Linked DNA regions of Homo sapiens. The protein of the gene in region 4 purifies or fractionates together with the protein of the main gene of each other region. This does not show direct contact. Each region holds a gene or a part of one and is shown on either strand. Other genes may lie near its edges. The genes, in order: DIPK1A, LAPTM4A, PRXL2A, UGT1A5 and GLB1L2.

Region 1 (3,517 bases), on a different chromosome or scaffold from region 4:
GGATAAACTGTGGTACACCCAGACAACGAAATATTATTCAGCGTTAAAAAGAAATGAGCTATTAAGCCATGAAAAGCCATAGAGGAGACGTAAATGCATATTACTAAGTGAAAGAAGCCTATTTGAAAAGGCTACCTAAAATACTACGTGATTCCAACTAGATGACATTTTAGAAAAAGGCAAAACTATGGAGACAATAAAGACCAGTGGCTTTTGGGGGCTCAGTGGGGACAGAAGGATAAATAAGCAGAGCACAGATTTTTAAGGCAGTGAAACTACACTCTATACAATAATGATGGATACATGTCATTATGCATTTATCCAAACACACTGAATGTACAACACAAAGAATGAACTCTAATGTAAAACTATGGACTTTGGGTGATAATACGTCAGTGTAAGTTCATTAACTGTAAAACATGTACCATTATGTGGGGGATGTTAAATATAGGGGAGGGGGCTGGGCACGGTGGCTCACGCCTGTAATCCCAGCACTTTGGGAGGCCAAGGCAGGCAGATCACGAGGTCAGGAGATCGAGACCATCCTGGCTAACACAGTGAAGCCCCGTCTCTGCTAAAAACACAAAAAATTAGCCAGGAGTGGTGGCGGGCACCTGTAGTCCCAGCTACTTGGGAGGCTGAGGCAGGAGAATGGCATGAACCTGGGAGGCAAAGCTTGCAGTGAGCTGAGATCGCACCACTGCACTACAGCCTGGGTGACAGAGTGAGACTCTGTCTCAAAAAAAAAAAAAAAGAAAAGAAAAGAAAGAAAAAAGAAAAAAAAATGAAAATAGGGGAGGGGCCAGGCACAGTGGTTAATTCCTATAATTCCAGCACTTTGGGAGGCCAAGGCAGGAGGATCACTTGAGCCCAAGAATTCAAGACCAGCCTGGGCAATGCAGTGGGACCACTGTCTCTTAAAAAAATATTTAAATTAGCTGGACTTGGTGGGATGTGCCTGTAGCTACTCAGGAGGCTGAAGCAGTAGGATCACTTGAGTATGGGAGGTAGAGGCTGCAGTGAGCCATGATTGTGTCACTGAACTCCAGCCTGGGTGACAGAGGGAGATCCTGTATCAAGAAGAGAAAAGAAAAGAAGAAAAGGGGAAAAAAAAGAAAAGAAAAGGAGGGAGGCTATTCATGTGTCAGGACAAGGGGTATATGGGAAATCTCTCTGCATTCCTCTCAATTTTGCTGTGAACTTAAAATGGCTCTAAAAACTTTTAAATCTTTAACTTAAAAAAAAAATCTGAGGCACTGAGAAGACTACAGTGAAGAAACACTTTTACTGTATGGTCCAGTTTGAAAGAAATGTGGTAAGGATGCAATCTGCCTGAGAATTCACCATTTCTTTGAGCTTCTAACAAAGGTTCAAAAGCAACTAATGGTAATATCAAGTGGCTCTCTGTACACATACCAGTCTCAGAAAGCTAATCATAGTTCTGGAGATTAAATTTCAGGCAAAGGCAAAAGCTAATCTCTGAACAGCAGGTCTAATAAAGTTAATGAGAACTATACAAACTACAGATCTTCTCCCTCTATTGTCTTTGGAGGATAGAGAACAACCATAGGCTCTAATTATCCTTAGATTTAAAATAATCCTGGAGACTGAAAATGGGCAAAAAGCCCATTTTTACTACAGTATTTGGCAACATTACTACTATTACCAATTAATCTGTATCAGTAACCCTGTCTGGCACTAAATCTCACAAAATATCCACATTAACTCATAAGGAACCAAACCATCCACAGCAGTCATGTTTGAAAAATTGTACTAATACGAGCCAAAGTGCCAGGTATCAGAAATGTTAAACAAGTGCAAACACCCTAGCTAGAACATGCCATCTACCCATTCACTCATAACAACCCTACTGAACACATACTGAAATTGCTAGGGCAGTCATTTTCAAGAGGATACTTCTAAAACTTTAAGCCCCTTACAAGCAAAACGGCTTGAAAACCTTCAAAGGACCCAAGTACATGGGACTTCAAATTCCATTAGAACTGCACCAACTTTTCATATGCAACAGAACACATAGGCAGAATGATTGGAATGGAAAATGTGTATAATCTAAGTACAGAGAATTATGCTGAATTGTCTTGACTTTCATTCTTTCAGGACTTAACGATGGTGAGAAGGAAGAAGGTATTTTAAACCAAAACCAACAAATTATAGGGTTGCTGTGTTATCAGCTTCACTCAGACTATGAGTAAACCCTAAACAAAGTAGATCTTAGTTTGTAGAAAACACACTGCTAAAAAAAGACAAATGCAGGTGTCATTCTGGGTTATCACACCCAAGCAGGCCACAAGTAGTATGCACCATAATGGCACGTGGAAGAAAATACTGCCTAAAAATGGTTTAAGCAGTTAATACATCCACAGTTTCTGATCTCAGAGGCAGGATTCTACTCTGTTCAATGTGCTGCATCATTTAGCCAGTCCAGGAAGTGTTATTTCCCAAGTAATGTTTCAACAAAATATCTGGAAAACATGGAACTGTAAATTAGCTTGCTTGCTCTGGGCAAGATGCCTTGCCATGAGAAGCTTGTTGCTCAGGTAAACGTCTGTTGGCCCTTCCAGGCAGGTCACAAGTCCTTCTAGCCCACAGAGAGGCTGCACAGACTAACAGTGTGCCTGCCCAGCTCCCCTGGAAGAAGTGCTCCCTGCACCAAAAAGCTGACCTTGGTGGAATCTGCAGCAAAAGGCAGAGAGAAGAAGGACGACTTTCATGAGATAAACTCGGTTCATTTATTTTTCAACTGTTTTATGGAGATATACTAATAATTCACATATCCTACAATTTATTCATTTAAAGCATAACGTTCAGTAGGTTTTAGTATATTCACATACTTGGGCAACCATCACCACTATCAATTTTAGAACATTTCTGTCCCCCTCAAGAACACTTCATATCCATCAGTAGTTACTCCCCATTTCCCCCCAGGCAACCACTAATCTATCTTTTTGTCTTTATAGATTTGCCCATTCTGGACATCTCATATGAATGAAATAATACGTGATCTTTTGTGACTAGTTTCATATATTTAATGTTTTTAAGGTTCATCCATGTTACAGTGTGTATCAGAACTTCATTTCACTTTATTGCTGAATAATATTCTGTTGTATGCATATACCACACAAGTTCTTTTCTTCACAGGCAGTAGAATCTCTTCTGCTATATAAGCAAAGCTATAAACAGTGAATAGGTGCCTGCATTAGCTCATGAATGTCTATTATGGCTGAAAATATATCATTAATTGTGTAATGCCACAGTTTTCCAAAAGCGTTACCAAATGCCACAGTGATATCTGGATTAATAAAAATACTGAGAATGAAGTTCCTTTACAAGTAAGCTGACTGCTTAAAAGTTTTCTCCTGTACACTGCAGAAAAAAGGGAACTCACAGCTCCTAAGGCCTGAACACCTCAGGACATAACTGGTCTTTGACCCCATCCAGTTAAAGACAAACAGCATAACTGCAAGTATACAAAGCTGGTCTCTGCAACCTTTCTCTC
Region 2 (3,517 bases), about 210 Mb from region 4:
CATACATTACCCTTTGCTCTAGATAAATATAACCTGAAATTCAAATTTCGCCATTAACCTCACTTCCCCACCCAACCTCCCAAACACCAAAATTCATTGCTTCCTGCACCCTGGTATCTATGTTAACACACACTACTTTCTTCTTCGTTTCTCAACTCTTCCTCAGGTTGTTCCAACTCTCCATTAATCCATGTTCACTAATTTTTTCACAAAACAGCCAAGTAATCTCAAGCAATTCTAAACCGTGCCTGACTTACTGAATTTCTTAGCACAAATCTGTAGTTGATTCTGTGACTCTGGACAGTTTTTTCTTTCTTTTCCTGAGACAGAGTCTTGCTCTGTCGCCCAGGCTAGAGTGCAGTGGCGCGATCTCGGCTCACTGCAACCTCAACCTCCCAGGTTCATGTGATTCTCTTGCCTCAGCCTCCCAAGTAGCTGGAATTATAGGCAAGCACCACCACATCCAGCTAATTTCTGTATTTCTAGTAGAGACGAGGTTTCACCATGTTGGCCAGGCTGGTCTAAACTCCCAACATCAGGTGATCCGTCTGGGCAGAGATTAAGAAACTGGGGGGGATGGGCACGGCAACCCACACCTGTAATCTCAGTACTCTGAGAGACTAAGGTGGGAAAATTACTTGAGGCCAGGAGTTCAAGACCAACCTGGGCAATATAGCAAGACCCTGTATGCACAAAAGATGTTTTAAAAATGAAAAAAGAAAAAAAATACTGAGGGCACTAATAATGATGAATGACTAGAACAACTGCTGAATATTCCCTATTGGGTAAATGTATATACAACTTTTTTTTTTTCTTTGAGACAATCTCACTGTCACCCAGGCTGGAGTGCAGTGGCACAATCTCAGCTCACTGCAACCTCTGCCTCCCAGGTTCATGAGATTCTTTTGCCTCAGCCTCCAGAGTAGCTAGGATTGCAGGCCTGCGCCACCAAGCCCAGCTAATTTTTGTATTTTTAATAGAGACAGGATTTCACCATGTTAGCCAGGCTAGTCTCAAACTCCTGACCTCAAGTGATTCACCTGCCTCGGCCTCCCAAAGTGATGGGATTACAGGCATGAGCCACCATGCACAGCATGTATATATAATTTATCACTGGGCAGTAAAACCTCATCAATATTTGGCACTAAACTAGGAATAGTCCTCTTTACTTTTTTCTTAGAGGATACAGGATTGATAAATGTTAAGAATTTAAAGGACTTCCCTGCTACAACATGCAAACTTCCACTTAGAAGAATTCAGGTAAAAACAAAATATGAAATTAAACAGGTATTATCAAACTTGAAAGCAAAATTTGTAATTCAAATAATCGGCTTTCAAGAGTCTGCTATGGGCTGGGCACAGTGGCTCATGCCTGTAATCTCAGCACTTTGGGAGGCTGAAGTGGGAGGGTCCCTTGAAGCCGGGAGCTCAAGACCAGCCTGGTAAAGACAGGGAGACCCGATCTCCACAAAAATTTAGCTACTCAGGCAGCTGAGGTGGGAGGATCACTTGAGCTCAGGAATTCTGGGTTACAGTGAGCTATTACTGTACCACTGCACTCCAGTTGGGACAACAAAGTAAGACCTTTTCTCTAAAAAACTTTTTTTAAACAAATAAATAATATAAATGTGATTTTAAAAATGAAGGGCGCTGGCTGGGCGCTGTGGCACGCCTGTAATCCCAGCACTTTGGGAGGCTGAGGCGGGTGGATCACCTAAGGTCGGGAGTTCGAGACCAACCTGACCAACATGGAGTAACTCTAAAAATACAAAAAATTAGCCGGGTGTGGTGGTGTGTGCCTGTAATCCCAGCTACTCAGGAGGCTGAGGCAGGAGAATCGCTTGAACCCAGGAGGCAGAGGTTGCCCTGAGCCGAGATCGCACCACTGCACTCCAGCCTGGGCAACAAGCGCAAAACTCTGTCTCAAAAAAAAAGAAAGGCATTTATCCCATTCATAAGGGTAGAGCCCTCATGGCCTAATCACCACCCAAGGGTCCTACCTCTTAATATCATCACCTTGGAGGTTAAGCTCCAGCATGTGAATTTTGGAGGGACACATATATTGTAACCATAGCAACTTCTCCTTTCTACTAGTAGCTACATTAAAAAAAAAGTCTTATGAAGCCTGCATGCTTATTTTGATTTCAAGGTACATTTTACACATTTCTCAAAAACTTAATAGTCCATTACATTTTCTGGCTAGAAATGCTCTATTGTAATCCTCACTGAATCTCTCTGAAAAACCCATCAAAATACTTTCCTGCCTCAGCAAGAATGACTTAAATATAATTTAACTTGTTACCCTTATTATGTAACCATTTTAACTTTCTGAAATGTAACTTAAGCATAATCTAATCAATCCCCTAAATAACCAGTGTGTGTGGAGACAGACAGACATGGGCCAACAACATTTTGGTCAACAATGGACTGCATATATCATGAGGGTTCCATAACACTGTAATAGTGTATTTACAGTATTACTATATTTTTCCATCTTTAGATACACACCTATTTGCCACTGTATGATAACTGCCTACAGTATTCGGTACAGTAACCTGCTGTACAGGTTTTAGCCTAGGAGTCTCTACCACATCGCCTAGGTGTATAGTAGGCTACGCTATCTAGGTTTGTGTAAGTACACCCTATGATGTTCACACAACAATATCACCCAGTGACATTTCTCAGAATGTGTCCCCATCATTAAACAACACAGGACTGTATATAAAAATTAGCAGGGGAGATTTTTTTGTTTTTCTATTAAACACATACCAGCCATTCTCTCAGACGAATAGTAATTACCGATGACTTCATACTGAATGTTGACAGCTGGCATGGAGTTTGGATGAGTCACTTCCACAGTCAGCAAAATTGCCATCAATAGGTTTACTACCTGGAAAAGATAACATTCTATCAGTTACATTAATTACCATCACGACGCAATCTTAGCACAATCTCTAGATGTCCTCTCATATTTAAGATTGTCTTACTTGAAGTAACAAAGATATAAAATAGTGGGAGACTACCTGTGAGATAAAACAATACGCAATTACCACTATGAGAATAATTTAAAAATAAATATTTTATAAAGTATAAGTAATATTAACCATTTGAGAGATAAGATGCTTAACCAATACACCAGAAAAAAATTAAAACTAAAGAATCATTACAAATGGTTCATGTTCGAAGCTACCTATTTATTCATATACCAATCTCAGAATTTCTGGATTTGAAGAAGTTACTGTTCATCTGTTATATTTATTCATCAGATGCCCGAAACCCCTCCACAGCATCTCTCATCAGGTGACAGAGAACTCACTATTTCCTCTAGAGCTAGACTCAAATGCTTAAGAGACTTACCAAGATACTGAAAGTCACTTATCTACTAGTCTTACTTTTGTGTGTGTGTGTGTATGTGTATGTGTGCGTGTGTGTGATATGGAGTCTCACTCTATTGCCCAGGGTGGAGTGCAGTGGTGCAATCTCAGCTCACTGAAGCCTCCCCTTCCTAGGCTCATGT
Region 3 (3,517 bases), on a different chromosome or scaffold from region 4:
GGTTCAAGTGATTCTCCTGCCTCAGCCTCCCGGGTAGCTGGGACTACAGGTGCCTGCCACCACACCCGGGTGATTTTTGTATTTTTAGTAGAGACGGGGTTTCGCCATGTTGCTCAGGCTGGTCTCGAACTCCCGACCTCAAGTGACTTGCTCACCTTGGCCTCCCAAAGTGCTGGGATTACAGGTGTGAGCCACTGCACCCAGCCTGGCAGTCAATTTTAAGCCTCCTATTTCCCAGGTTTTAGCTTAATAATCCTCATTAGTTTTTCAGATTTTTGTCAGTCTTGTTTTGGGGCTATTTTGCCTTAGTGGGCCTAAACAGAATATTAAAATACATTAATAATCCATACTGAGAGTAGAGTATAAATGGGTTTCTCACTCCTTAGGGACACGAGTGGAAACAATACATCCCATGAACACAGGTGAATGTCCCTGGTTATCCCTGAGCTGGGCAGTTTCACACAATCATTTTTTCTCTGAGGCCAAAGTCTGTGGTTTGATCATCTTAGCAGCTTCCAGAACAGAAAGTAGGTTTACTTTGTCTCCAAATTCTTTTTCTCGGTGCTCAAGAAGAATGCCCTAAAAGGAAACAAGAGATAATGTCAGTCCTCATCCTAAATCGTTCGTTCATGAGACAGGCATCGAGGACCAGCTGTCTGTCAAGCCTTTTGCTTGAATAGCAAAGGACACAGATCCAAATATGGCCTGGCTCCTGCCCTCAAGGAGTTCAGTCTTTGAGGGAAGATAGACCGGAGAAGGCCACATCCATCTGGCCTGTACCAGCAGCTCTAGAAGCAGGAAGTCAGAAGTGATAAAGCATGACAAGGGCAATCAGGGAAGGCCTCACAGAGGCACGGAGGGTAACCAGGATGTCTACAAGTAGAGATGCAGGTAAAAGAACATACCAGGTGAAGAGAAAAAAATGAAGCTAACACAGAAAGGCCCAAAGGTGTGGAAGTGGAGCTCAGAGGTTAGACTTTGGAAGGCACTGAATGACCATCTAAAAGAGAGACCCTCATTTTTCTTTAGTCTTCTAAGAAACTGGAAGCCACTTTCTTCTCATACAGTGAAAAAAAATGCACTAAGACACAAGATACCCCAAAGTTATCTAAAGTTGGAGGTAGTAAAAAAAAGACAAAATAACATGTTTGAGATCAGCATCAAGGAATCCTTGTTAGAGTTCTTTGATTCATTACATCTGGAAACTCATCTTAAAAAGAAAATCTGTAAATACACTGTGTCATTATTTATAAAGACTTAAAAAAAAAAAAAAGGCCCACCACACTGCAGAGATTATGGGCAAGCAGATCAGAAAATTATATTTACTTGCTCAGTAAACCATAATACAGACATTAAAAATACTAATAGGCTGCGTGCTGTGGCTCACACCTGTACTCCCAGCACTTTAGGAGGCTGAGGTGGGCGGATCACTTGAGGTCAGGAGTTCAAGACCAGCCTGGCCAACACGGTGAAACTCGGTCTCTACTAAAAATACAAAAATTAGCCAGGTACGGTAGCTCAAGCCTTTAGTCCCAGCTATTCAGGAGGCTGAAACAGGATAATCCCTTGAACCTGGGAGGCTGGGAGGCGGAGGTTGCAGTGAGCCGAGATCGCGCCACTGCACTCCAGCCTGGGCGACAGAGCAAGACTCCATCTAAACAAACAAACAAACAAAAACACGAACAAAAAACTAACAATATATAGTGACATAGGAAAATGTTCACAATATACTGTTAAATGAAAAAAGAACATCTAGTACAATTTTCTAGAGCAAAGCAAAACAAAAGGAAAGGCCATTCAGCTTTGTTCCAGTGGATTTTCCACGGTGGCTGAGCTCATAGGATGGTTTTCCCCACCTTCTATGTTCTGCTGTTTTTAAATTTTCTGTAGTGCAAACACACTTTTTATTTATTTATTTACAGACAGGGTCTTGCTCTGTTTCCCAGGCTGTAGTTCAGTGGTGCGATCATAGCTTACTGCAGCCTTGAACTCCTGTGCTCAAGAAATCCTCCTGCTTCAGCCTCCCAAGTAGCCAGGACTACAGGTGCATGTCACCACGCCGGCTAAACTTTTTTATTCTTTATAGAGATGGGGTTTTGCTATGTTGCCCAGCTGCTTCTTCTTTAAGAATGCTTTCAAGATTATTATTAAAAAGAAAATTCAGGCAGGGTGCGGCGGCTCACGCCTGTAATCCCAGCACTTTGGGAGACCAATGTGGATAGATCACTTGAGGTCAGGAGTTTGAGACCAGTCTGGCCAACATGGTGACACCCTGCCTCTACTAAAAATACAAAAATTAGCTGGGCATGGCAGCGGGTACCTGTAATCCCAGCTACTCGGGAGGCTGAGGCAGGAGAATCGCTTGAACCCGGGGGGGTGGAGGTTGCAGTGAGCTGAGATCGTGCCATTGCACTCCAGCCTGGGCAACAAGAGTGAACCTCTGTCTCCAGAAAAAAAAAAAAAAAAAAAAAAAAAGGAAATCCCCACCACCCCAATTTTAGACTACAAAAACTCTACACCCAACAAGAACTGAAGTAAGTCCTGAAGTTCAGCTAGCCAGTTAACCTTCCGCCTAGGAGAATGAAGGCCAGGGGCTCCAGGGAATACGAACAAAAGTCAAACACACCTAGCAACATCAGAAACATGCCAGTAGGGCCCATGAGCACCAGATGAGTCATCGCCAGGCAAGAAAAGGCTGGCAGGCATGCCAAGCCCTGCCCTAGAGGCCATGAGAAGGCAGAGGCGGGTAGGGGAAGGAACCCCACGTTGTCAGAGTGGGAAGAGGATGGGCAATCCACTGGGGAAGTGGCCTGCCCAAGCATAAGGACATCAGGAAGTGGTCGCTGGGAAACACCTCCAAGGAGAGGCTAGGGGCAGGGCAGGGCAGGAGAGGCTAGGGGCAGGGAAGGGCAGGAGAGGCTAGGGGCAGGGCAGGGCAGGAGAGGCTAGGGGCAGGGCAGGGCAGGGCAGGGCAGGAGAGGCTAGGGGCAGGGCAGGGCAGGAGAGGCTAGGGGCGGGGCGGGGCAGGGCAGGGCCGGGCCGGGAAGGGTCTCTGGAGTTTGACAGATTTGAGTTCCTAAGTTTCATTTCCATTGTACCACTTAGCTGTGTCTTTGGCTGAGTTATTTTAAATCTCTAGGCCAACTGCTGTATATGTGGATGGGAATAAAAATGCCTAACATCCTAGACTGGTTGTGAGGAAGACATGAGACCATGTACTTGAGCACGTAGAACAAGACAGGCACTCATTGGAAACCATTATTACTAAGACACTTTGACAGATTTACCAGAAAATTAGCAAATAGGTTTATGTTAAATCAGACACCATTTTATGCTAAATTCTAATATAGTCAAGCGAATCAGTTACCAAGCTGTAAAAGGAAGACATAAGAAATAAAGCTCAGGCCAGGCGTGAGCTTGTAATCCCAGCACTTTGGGAGGCTGAGGCGGGCAGATCATGAGTAGAAACCCTGTCTCTACTGAAAATACAAAAAAATTAGCTGGGTGTGGTGGTGGG
Region 4 (4,109 bases):
GACAGCTCCATTCGCTGCCTGTCCCATGGGTTCTGTCCAAAGGTGGAATCTATTATCAATGTGGATTTCTAATGGGGGTAACTTCCTCCCTAAGGGAAGCCTCAGCTTCACCAGCAATGGCAGACACGGCCAGGCATGTAGACACAGAGGAAGTGAGATAGAAAGTGTGCACAGCCCAGAGAGCCTGCCCACATCATCCTGGGGCGACCAGGACAAGGAGGCGTCAGCAATCTTGCCAAGCACAAGTATGAGTGACTTTCTGGAGCAGGACGAGTCTCATGGGCGTGAGACCATTGTGAGTGCTCAGGGTCTCTCCATTAGAAAGGCACACGTTTAATTCTCCATTTTGAAATTTGAACTAGAGCCCCCACAAATTATTCTGTTCTGGAGGAACCATTCTTATCAGAACTTGGTGCTGGATTGACTTGGAAAAAAGCCTGACCATAATCTTCAGGATGAAATAAAGGCCTGGATGAATGGACACTTCAGTCTCTAAGCAGACTTGCAGAAGACTGGAGCCTTCAGCATTCAGAAGAGGAATTCAGACTGTGCAAGATCTGAGGCCAGGCTCCAGCTCCCCCGGTCCCTTGGTGAGCAGGAGCTCCCTGAACCCACCATGGGTCTTTGCTAGGGTTGTCTTGCACATGTGTGCTTTAGACAGCAGCACCTCTTCTTCCATGGTGTAGATGGAGAATCCTCAACAAAGCCTTTCCAAGAATCTGATCATCACATCTTGAGCTCAGCCTCCCTGCAGCTTTTTTTATATTGACAGCCACTTCAGAGAGAGTCCTCTTTGAGCTTTACAAGAAATATCCTGGTGTGAAAAACGACCAAAACCAGATAGCCAGCCTCCCCACTCCCTGTTTAAAGAAAGCTGGCTTAGCAATGTTGTCTGCATTTTGGATGTGCTGTGTTACCCATATGTGGGAAGAAAGAGTATTAAGAGTTAGCAAATAGGGTCACATCCAGCAGAGACCATATGGTTGGGGACTAGGGCAATGGTGACTCCTCAGACCTCAGCTGCAGCCTGATAAACGTGGTTAAGAGAGAAGTAGGAGACAGTGACATGAAATGGGGGTTCACAGCCTTGTGTTGGGAATTGAATGAGAAACAAGAGCTTGAACTTGGATGTTCCCCAGAGCGAGCGCAAGGTCAGATGAGTTTTTCAAGATAGGAGTGATCGGTCTTTCCCAGGGTGGGGCCCATAATGCAAGACAATTATAGATTAACGGGTAATAAGTAACTGGAGGAGGGCACTCTGTCTTCAATTACATGTTGATTTGCTAGGTGTCTCAGTGACAAGGTAATTAAGACGAAGGAAACAATTCTAGGAGGCACAACGTGGGGTGGACAGTCAGCTGTCGGTGGCTTCTGCTGAGATGGCCACAGGACTCCAGGTTCCCCTGCCGCAGCTGGCCACAGGACTGCTGCTTCTCCTCAGTGTCCAGCCCTGGGCTGAGAGTGGGAAGGTGCTGGTGGTGCCCACTGATGGCAGCCACTGGCTCAGCATGCGGGAGGCCTTGCGGGACCTCCATGCGAGAGGCCACCAGGTGGTGGTCCTCACCCTGGAGGTGAATATGTACATCAAAGAAGAGAACTTTTTCACCCTGACAACGTATGCCATTTCATGGACCCAGGACGAATTTGATCGCCTTTTGCTGGGTCACACTCAATCGTTCTTTGAAACAGAACATCTTCTGATGAAATTTTCTAGAAGAATGGCAATTATGAACAATATGTCTTTGATCATACATAGGTCTTGTGTGGAGCTACTGCATAATGAGGCCCTGATCAGGCACCTGCATGCTACTTCCTTTGATGTGGTTCTAACAGACCCCTTTCACCTCTGCGCGGCGGTGCTGGCTAAGTACCTGTCGATTCCTGCTGTGTTTTTCTTGAGGAACATTCCATGTGATTTAGACTTTAAGGGCACACAGTGTCCAAACCCTTCCTCCTATATTCCTAGATTACTAACGACCAATTCAGACCACATGACATTCCTGCAAAGGGTCAAGAACATGCTCTACCCTCTGGCCCTGTCCTACCTTTGCCATGCTGTTTCTGCTCCTTATGCAAGCCTTGCCTCTGAGCTTTTTCAGAGAGAGGTGTCAGTGGTGGATCTTGTCAGCCATGCATCTGTGTGGCTGTTCCGAGGGGACTTTGTGATGGATTACCCCAGGCCGATCATGCCCAACATGGTCTTCATTGGGGGCATCAACTGTGCCAACGGGAAGCCACTATCTCAGGTCTGTATTGGTGCCTTTATCCAATCAATGTTCCAGGCAAAACACTTTTTAAAAAATGTATTTACTTACAAGTGCTTCCATATCTACTTATCTTTCCAAAGATTTCATTTCTGCTTCTCATTGTTGTAATAGTCTTCAGTGAGATAAACTTTTAAAGGGTCAATGGTAGTGCAGTTCAGGGTTTCAATGGCCACTGAGAGGAAGGAGAGGCAGGGACGAGGATCTGTCAAAGGATGGGCAAGAGTGGTGTGACTCACGGAGACTGTTCGTTTGTAAAAGCACCATCTTCATGGCTGTGGATGTGCTTCAGCTGGGCAGGAGCAGGGACACTACACTGAGAACTGATCCATCCAATCTTGCTGGCAAGATTTTCAGTAGAAAGGAGGAAGGAATAGAAATTTACAATTGTTGACGTGACAATTTTTAGTGGTCCCATCTTGCAAAAGATAGAGAGGTGACCACAGGAGACCTAAGCACTCAGAGGAAGTAGAGGTTTCAAAGAAGTTGACTCAGTTCAGTGGAATTGGGCCAATGTAGGTGCAATGGATGTCTGTGATCAGAGAATGAAACACAGAGTTCAGTTTCCAGAGAGGGAGTGTTGGATTGTAATAGGAGAATGTTTCTTGTGAAGACACTACTTAAAAAAAATTCTTACTAGGTTAACTTCATGGTCTAATACCGAAGTGTCCAATAGAAATATCATGTAAACCACATACATAATTTAAACTTTTCTAGTGGGCATGTTAAACACCAGCAAAAAGAAACCACTAAAATTAATGTGAATAATGCATTTTATTTAACCAGATGTATCCCAAATATTATCCTTTCAACATGTGAACTGTTTAACGTAGCTTTTTTTGTTGTTAAGTCTTCAAAATCTAGCATATATTTGACACTTACAGTATATCTCAATTTGGAATAGCCACATTTCAAGTGCTCAATATTCATATGTAGTTAGTGACAACAATATGGTGAATGTTTATAAATATTCCATGGATAAAACTAAAATTCTATCTTTTAAATTTTTCTATCTTTTGAGATGGAGTCTTGCTCTGTCACCCAGTCTGGAGTGCAGTGGTGGGATCTTGGCTCATTGCAACCTCCACCTCCCAGGTTCAACTGATTCTCCTGCCTCAGCCTCCCAAGTAGCTGGAACTACAGGCGCATGGCACCACATCCAGCTAATTTTCTTTTTTTTTGTATTTTTTATGGAGATGGAGTTTCATCATATTGGCCAGGCTGATCTCAAATGCCTGATCTCAAGTGATTCACTCACCTCAGCCTGCCAAAGTGCTGGAATTACAGGCGCGAGCCACCACACCTAGGCAATTTTTCTATCTTTTAAAAGACCCTCTACTGAATCTGCCCAATTCTGTGAAGGATGTCTTTTAAAAAATCCCCTTACATAACAAATTCTCCTCCAGTTATATTTTGGCTCTTGAATAGGTTTTGCTTTATACATAGTGATTAGATTGGTGCATGTAGGTTTGAGGTTTGAGACTTATATTTTCTTCACAGTTTGCTGTTATCATTAAATAATAATCCTTAAAATACATTTTATCTGATATCAGTAATGTGACTCCTATGTTATTTTTTGAATTCCCCATCTCTTTTAATTTGAAAATGATTTGTGTGCAAGTGGGTAGCTCACACCTGTAATTTCAGCCCTTTGGGAGACCGAGGGAGGAGGATTGCTTGAGCCCAGGAGTCTGAGAGCAGCCTGGGCAACATGCTGAGACTCCATCTCTACAAAAAATTAAAAAATTATCCAGGTGTGATGGTGCACACCTGTGGTCCCAGCTACTCGGGAGGCTGAGGCAGGAGGATCACTTGATCCCAGGAGGTGGAGGCTGCAGTGTGCCA
Region 5 (3,517 bases), on a different chromosome or scaffold from region 4:
AAGACTCTGTCTCAAAAAAAAGAAACAGACAGGGAAGGTCGGATTTTTCCCATACTGCAGACACGCAGGTGAATGACCTGCCAGGACTCACAGCTCCACAGCAGAGTCCTGAAGCATGAGATGCCAGGAGGGCCAGCCCTGCTGCTGCCTGTCACACAAGCAGCCCATGCATGGCTACGTGAGGGCACTCACTGCAGCATCACTGAAAGCGATCCCCTCTGGGTGCTGCTTTTCCTGAAAAGGAAATTCAGTACAGAATGGGAACTGGAACACAATTCAGTACAGAATGGGAACTGGAACACAGAAACAAACCAGACCTATGTCTGTGAGCTTTTTGCCACAGCACACAGGACCCTTCACAACCCCGCTTACCTGGGCAAGCCCCCGAGGTCCATCTCACTGCAGATGTAGGGGCCTGGACGCAGAATCACCCACAGCCCGATCTCTGCGGCCATCAGGACGAAGGCCCTAGGGAGGTCCACATCGTCAGCCCCTCCCACGACGGCCCAGGATGAGGCCGGGTGGGGGCCACGCGCATCACAGGGTGGAGGAGCTGCCTGGTGGGGCGAAGGGACGGCTCGGCCCCACCCCCAAAGCGCGGGGACTCCCACACCAGGTCGGTGGCCTGAGCTGCTCCCAGCCTCAGAGCCTCTGCACAGCCCCATCGGGGGCCTGAGGAGGAAGGGTGACACCCAGGGCTCAGTGGTCTCAACAGTGAACCTGACCCCATAGCCTTGCTAGCCTAGAGGGGCCGCCCTGCCCCAGCCCAGCGGCCGGACCCCATGCAGAGTCGGGCGGCTCCCAGGGTCTTCTGCCCCTCTGGGCTGCAGTGGAGAGGTGGGGCCCGGAGGCTGCAGGCCCAGTCCCTCTGGGTGACAGGTCACGACTGGGGAGCGTCTGGGTCCTGGGTGCAGGGCCTCTCACAGTCCTAGAACAGGACTCCAGACCCACGTCCCTCCCTGGTTCTCTTTGGTTGCTAATCCACCCCAGTAGCCACCTCTGTGCCCTGCCCCTGGCCAGTTCACAGAAGCAGCAACACCACATACTCCAGGTCCAGGTTCCCAGAGAAGTCAAATTTGCCTCTTTCTGGCTCATGCAGGTTCCACGGAACATAGCTGCAACAGAAATGATAATTATAGGCTAGAGCATGTCATTCATTCCATTTCACCTCTCACATTACCTTCTTTAGCCCAAAAATCCAATATGATGGCTAAAGATATGTTTCTTCATGATTTTAGGACTGGAACCAAGAACTAAGTGAACTGATCTAGGGACCAGAATCGAGGGCAAGCCCTCTTCCCTCTGCATCAACAAGATTTGGATGAAGCATAAGACCGGCTGAGTAAAAGGTCAGGCGCTCTGACCCCAGTTAGCTTACCATGCCCACGCCCCATTGGAGAAGAAAATGTAACTTTATCAAAAAAACAGCTACAAGGAGTAAGGGGAAAGCTCGGTGATCATCCTATATTTACTGAAGCCCCGGAATTCCAAAACGGGCAACAGAATGAAGCTTCCAACTCGAAAGACAGGACAAGGGATGGAGCAGGCTCATGGACAGGCTCAACTCGAGAGGCGGAAGGGACGACTCATGGATGACACAGTGATGGCAGCTGCTCTTCTCCCGGCCCCACCCCATCGCTGGCTTTCGCAGAGCCTCTGCCCACTACAAAGAATATTCTCAGATGAAGGAGGAGAGCCTGCCTGGCTTCCAACCCAGACACACGAGCTCTGCCTTTCAGCAAGTGTCGTCGGTGCTGCTTCTGCGAGTCAGAGTGCTGAGCCTGCAGCACTCCCACAGCCTTCAGGAGTCCTTTCGGGGAAGTTGTCAAGGCTCGGCAGGTTTCTGTAACTCTTTAAGGAACTGTCTTCAAAATCAGTTCATAAACCACCCATGAAAAGCCATCTCCTTGATTTGTAATCACATATTTTTGCCTAAACATGGAATAATCCAGCCTGATCACCCCCTTTATTTCATAGACTTAGCGTCAAGTATCAGTTGGCAATTTGGGGGGAAAACCCATGAAAAGATCCAGGTTATTCACAACTGAGCACACTTTATAAATGATTTGCAAGTTCGACATTTTAGTGCGTGCCTACCATGTGCCAATCATCACAGCAGAGGCTGGGATGGCAACCACAGCATTCTAAGACCACTGCCCAAGAGGAGTGCTGAAAACTGGGGCCAGAGAGCCTCTCAGGCAGCTCTCCTGAAGAAGACTCCGTTCACTGGCTGTATAAACTGGAAGTGGGAAGACTGCTTGTAACACAAAAAGATTCGCTAGCACTGAATCACCTCCTCAATCTGCACTCACCGCCTTCCCTATACTCTTTTGTGCGACATTGCTACTGCGGTTCCTCTAGACCTCACATCCATTTCATGTCCCTTGGCGCCCATGAGTCAGGAGCTCTGTGGTGGGGAGGAGGAGGGAGACCCTGGCTCTCTCGCCCTGGGCAGAGGACCTGGGCCGGTTCCTCTTATATTTTTTCGCATGCAGACACCAGGCGCCCTGCTTAGGAACCAGGCTCCGGGGGGACAGGGGCAGCACCTACGTGGTGAGGGTGTTCAAGCCACAGGCCTTCATCTTCAGCAGGCGGTCCCTCCAGTACTCCCTGGGCACACGGAAATAGTGGATGGAGCCCCCGAAGATCCAGAAGGTGGAATCCTCCAGCATGAAGTTCCAGCCCTTGGCCTGCAGCCCCAGCTGTCGATGGCGGAGCCGCAGAGGGACCAGGGTGCTCCAGTCCAGCCTGGAAAGACAAAGACATTCTGGAGCCTGGAGGCTCCGGGCCGCAGAGAGATCGGCTTCCTCGCCCCTTCGCAGGTCCTCGGCATTTCTCTCTCGAGGGCGCCTGCGTCCAGGTGGCTGGGAAAAGCTCCCCTCCGCCTCAGCCAGACCTGGGAAGGGGTCTTTCTTCAGCACGGGGCCCCGCGGCAGGGGAAGGGCAGGCCGAGGCTGCAGCCGGCAGCAAGCACAGCACTCGGCATGGAGGCCGGCGGGCTGAAAGGAGAGACGGCAGCCGTCACGCCACGGGAGAGGCTGCTGCTGGGGCCGGGGCGGGGCGGGGCGGGCGCCGCACGGGCTTCACCGTGGCCAGCCCCGCGGCCACGCGCGACAGCGACTTCACACGGTACCTCCGAGCCCCGGCACGGTCGCAGCCGCCCGACCGCAGGAGCAGAGACCTGGAAAGAGGGTCTGCGTTGGCGGCGTCCACCCATCCACCCGATTCCAGGTCTTCATTATTTTCTGAAGACCGCGCACCCCCCACGAGGTGACCCAGCTAGAGCAGAGTCCCCCACGGGAAGGCCGTCGAAGGCTCCGGTCCGCGAGAAAGCGCCTCTCGGCATCTCTCGGGGTCGGCCCCAGGGAGCCCCTCAGCCGGGTCCCAGTGACTCGGTGCTGCCGGGTGGGTCTCCTTCCCACCCTGTCTCCCGAAAGCCGTGCGAGAAGCTGGGGAGACCCACATTTCAAGTCAGGAAGGTCAGGAAAGCTGGAGGCATGAAACAAGGGCGTGGCTG

What was found.
Region 1: the proteins of UGT1A5 (region 4) and DIPK1A purify together in Homo sapiens (affinity purification with mass spectrometry; one large-scale study listed by BioGRID and IntAct). This does not show direct contact.
Region 2: the proteins of UGT1A5 (region 4) and LAPTM4A purify together in Homo sapiens (affinity purification with mass spectrometry; one large-scale study listed by BioGRID and IntAct). This does not show direct contact.
Region 3: the proteins of UGT1A5 (region 4) and PRXL2A purify together in Homo sapiens (affinity purification with mass spectrometry; one large-scale study listed by BioGRID and IntAct). This does not show direct contact.
Region 5: the proteins of UGT1A5 (region 4) and GLB1L2 purify together in Homo sapiens (affinity purification with mass spectrometry; one large-scale study listed by BioGRID and IntAct). This does not show direct contact.

The regions. Positions count from the first base shown.
Region 1 is NC_000001.11:92,954,959-92,958,475, forward strand, and holds part of DIPK1A (divergent protein kinase domain 1A), read right to left. Parts: intron 1-3,517.
Region 2 is NC_000002.12:20,038,122-20,041,638, forward strand, and holds part of LAPTM4A (lysosomal-associated transmembrane protein 4A), read right to left. Parts: intron 2,891-3,517; coding exon 2,770-2,890; intron 1-2,769. UniProt on the Homo sapiens protein: May function in the transport of nucleosides and/or nucleoside derivatives between the cytosol and the lumen of an intracellular membrane-bound compartment.
Region 3 is NC_000010.11:80,429,048-80,432,564, reverse strand, and holds part of PRXL2A (peroxiredoxin-like 2A isoform 1 precursor), read right to left. Parts: intron 580-3,517; coding exon 466-579; 3' UTR 1-465. UniProt on the Homo sapiens protein: Involved in redox regulation of the cell. Acts as an antioxidant. Inhibits TNFSF11-induced NFKB1 and JUN activation and osteoclast differentiation. May affect bone resorption and help to maintain bone mass.
Region 4 is NC_000002.12:233,711,613-233,715,721, forward strand, and holds the start of UGT1A5 (UDP-glucuronosyltransferase 1A5 precursor), read left to right. Parts: upstream 1-1,294; 5' UTR 1,295-1,379; coding exon 1,380-2,246; intron 2,247-4,109.
Region 5 is NC_000011.10:134,341,985-134,345,501, reverse strand, and holds part of GLB1L2 (beta-galactosidase-1-like protein 2 isoform b precursor), read right to left. Parts: intron 2,749-3,517; coding exon 2,551-2,748; intron 1,116-2,550; coding exon 1,047-1,115; intron 469-1,046; coding exon 373-468; intron 235-372; coding exon of another isoform or gene 189-234; exon of another isoform or gene 1-188.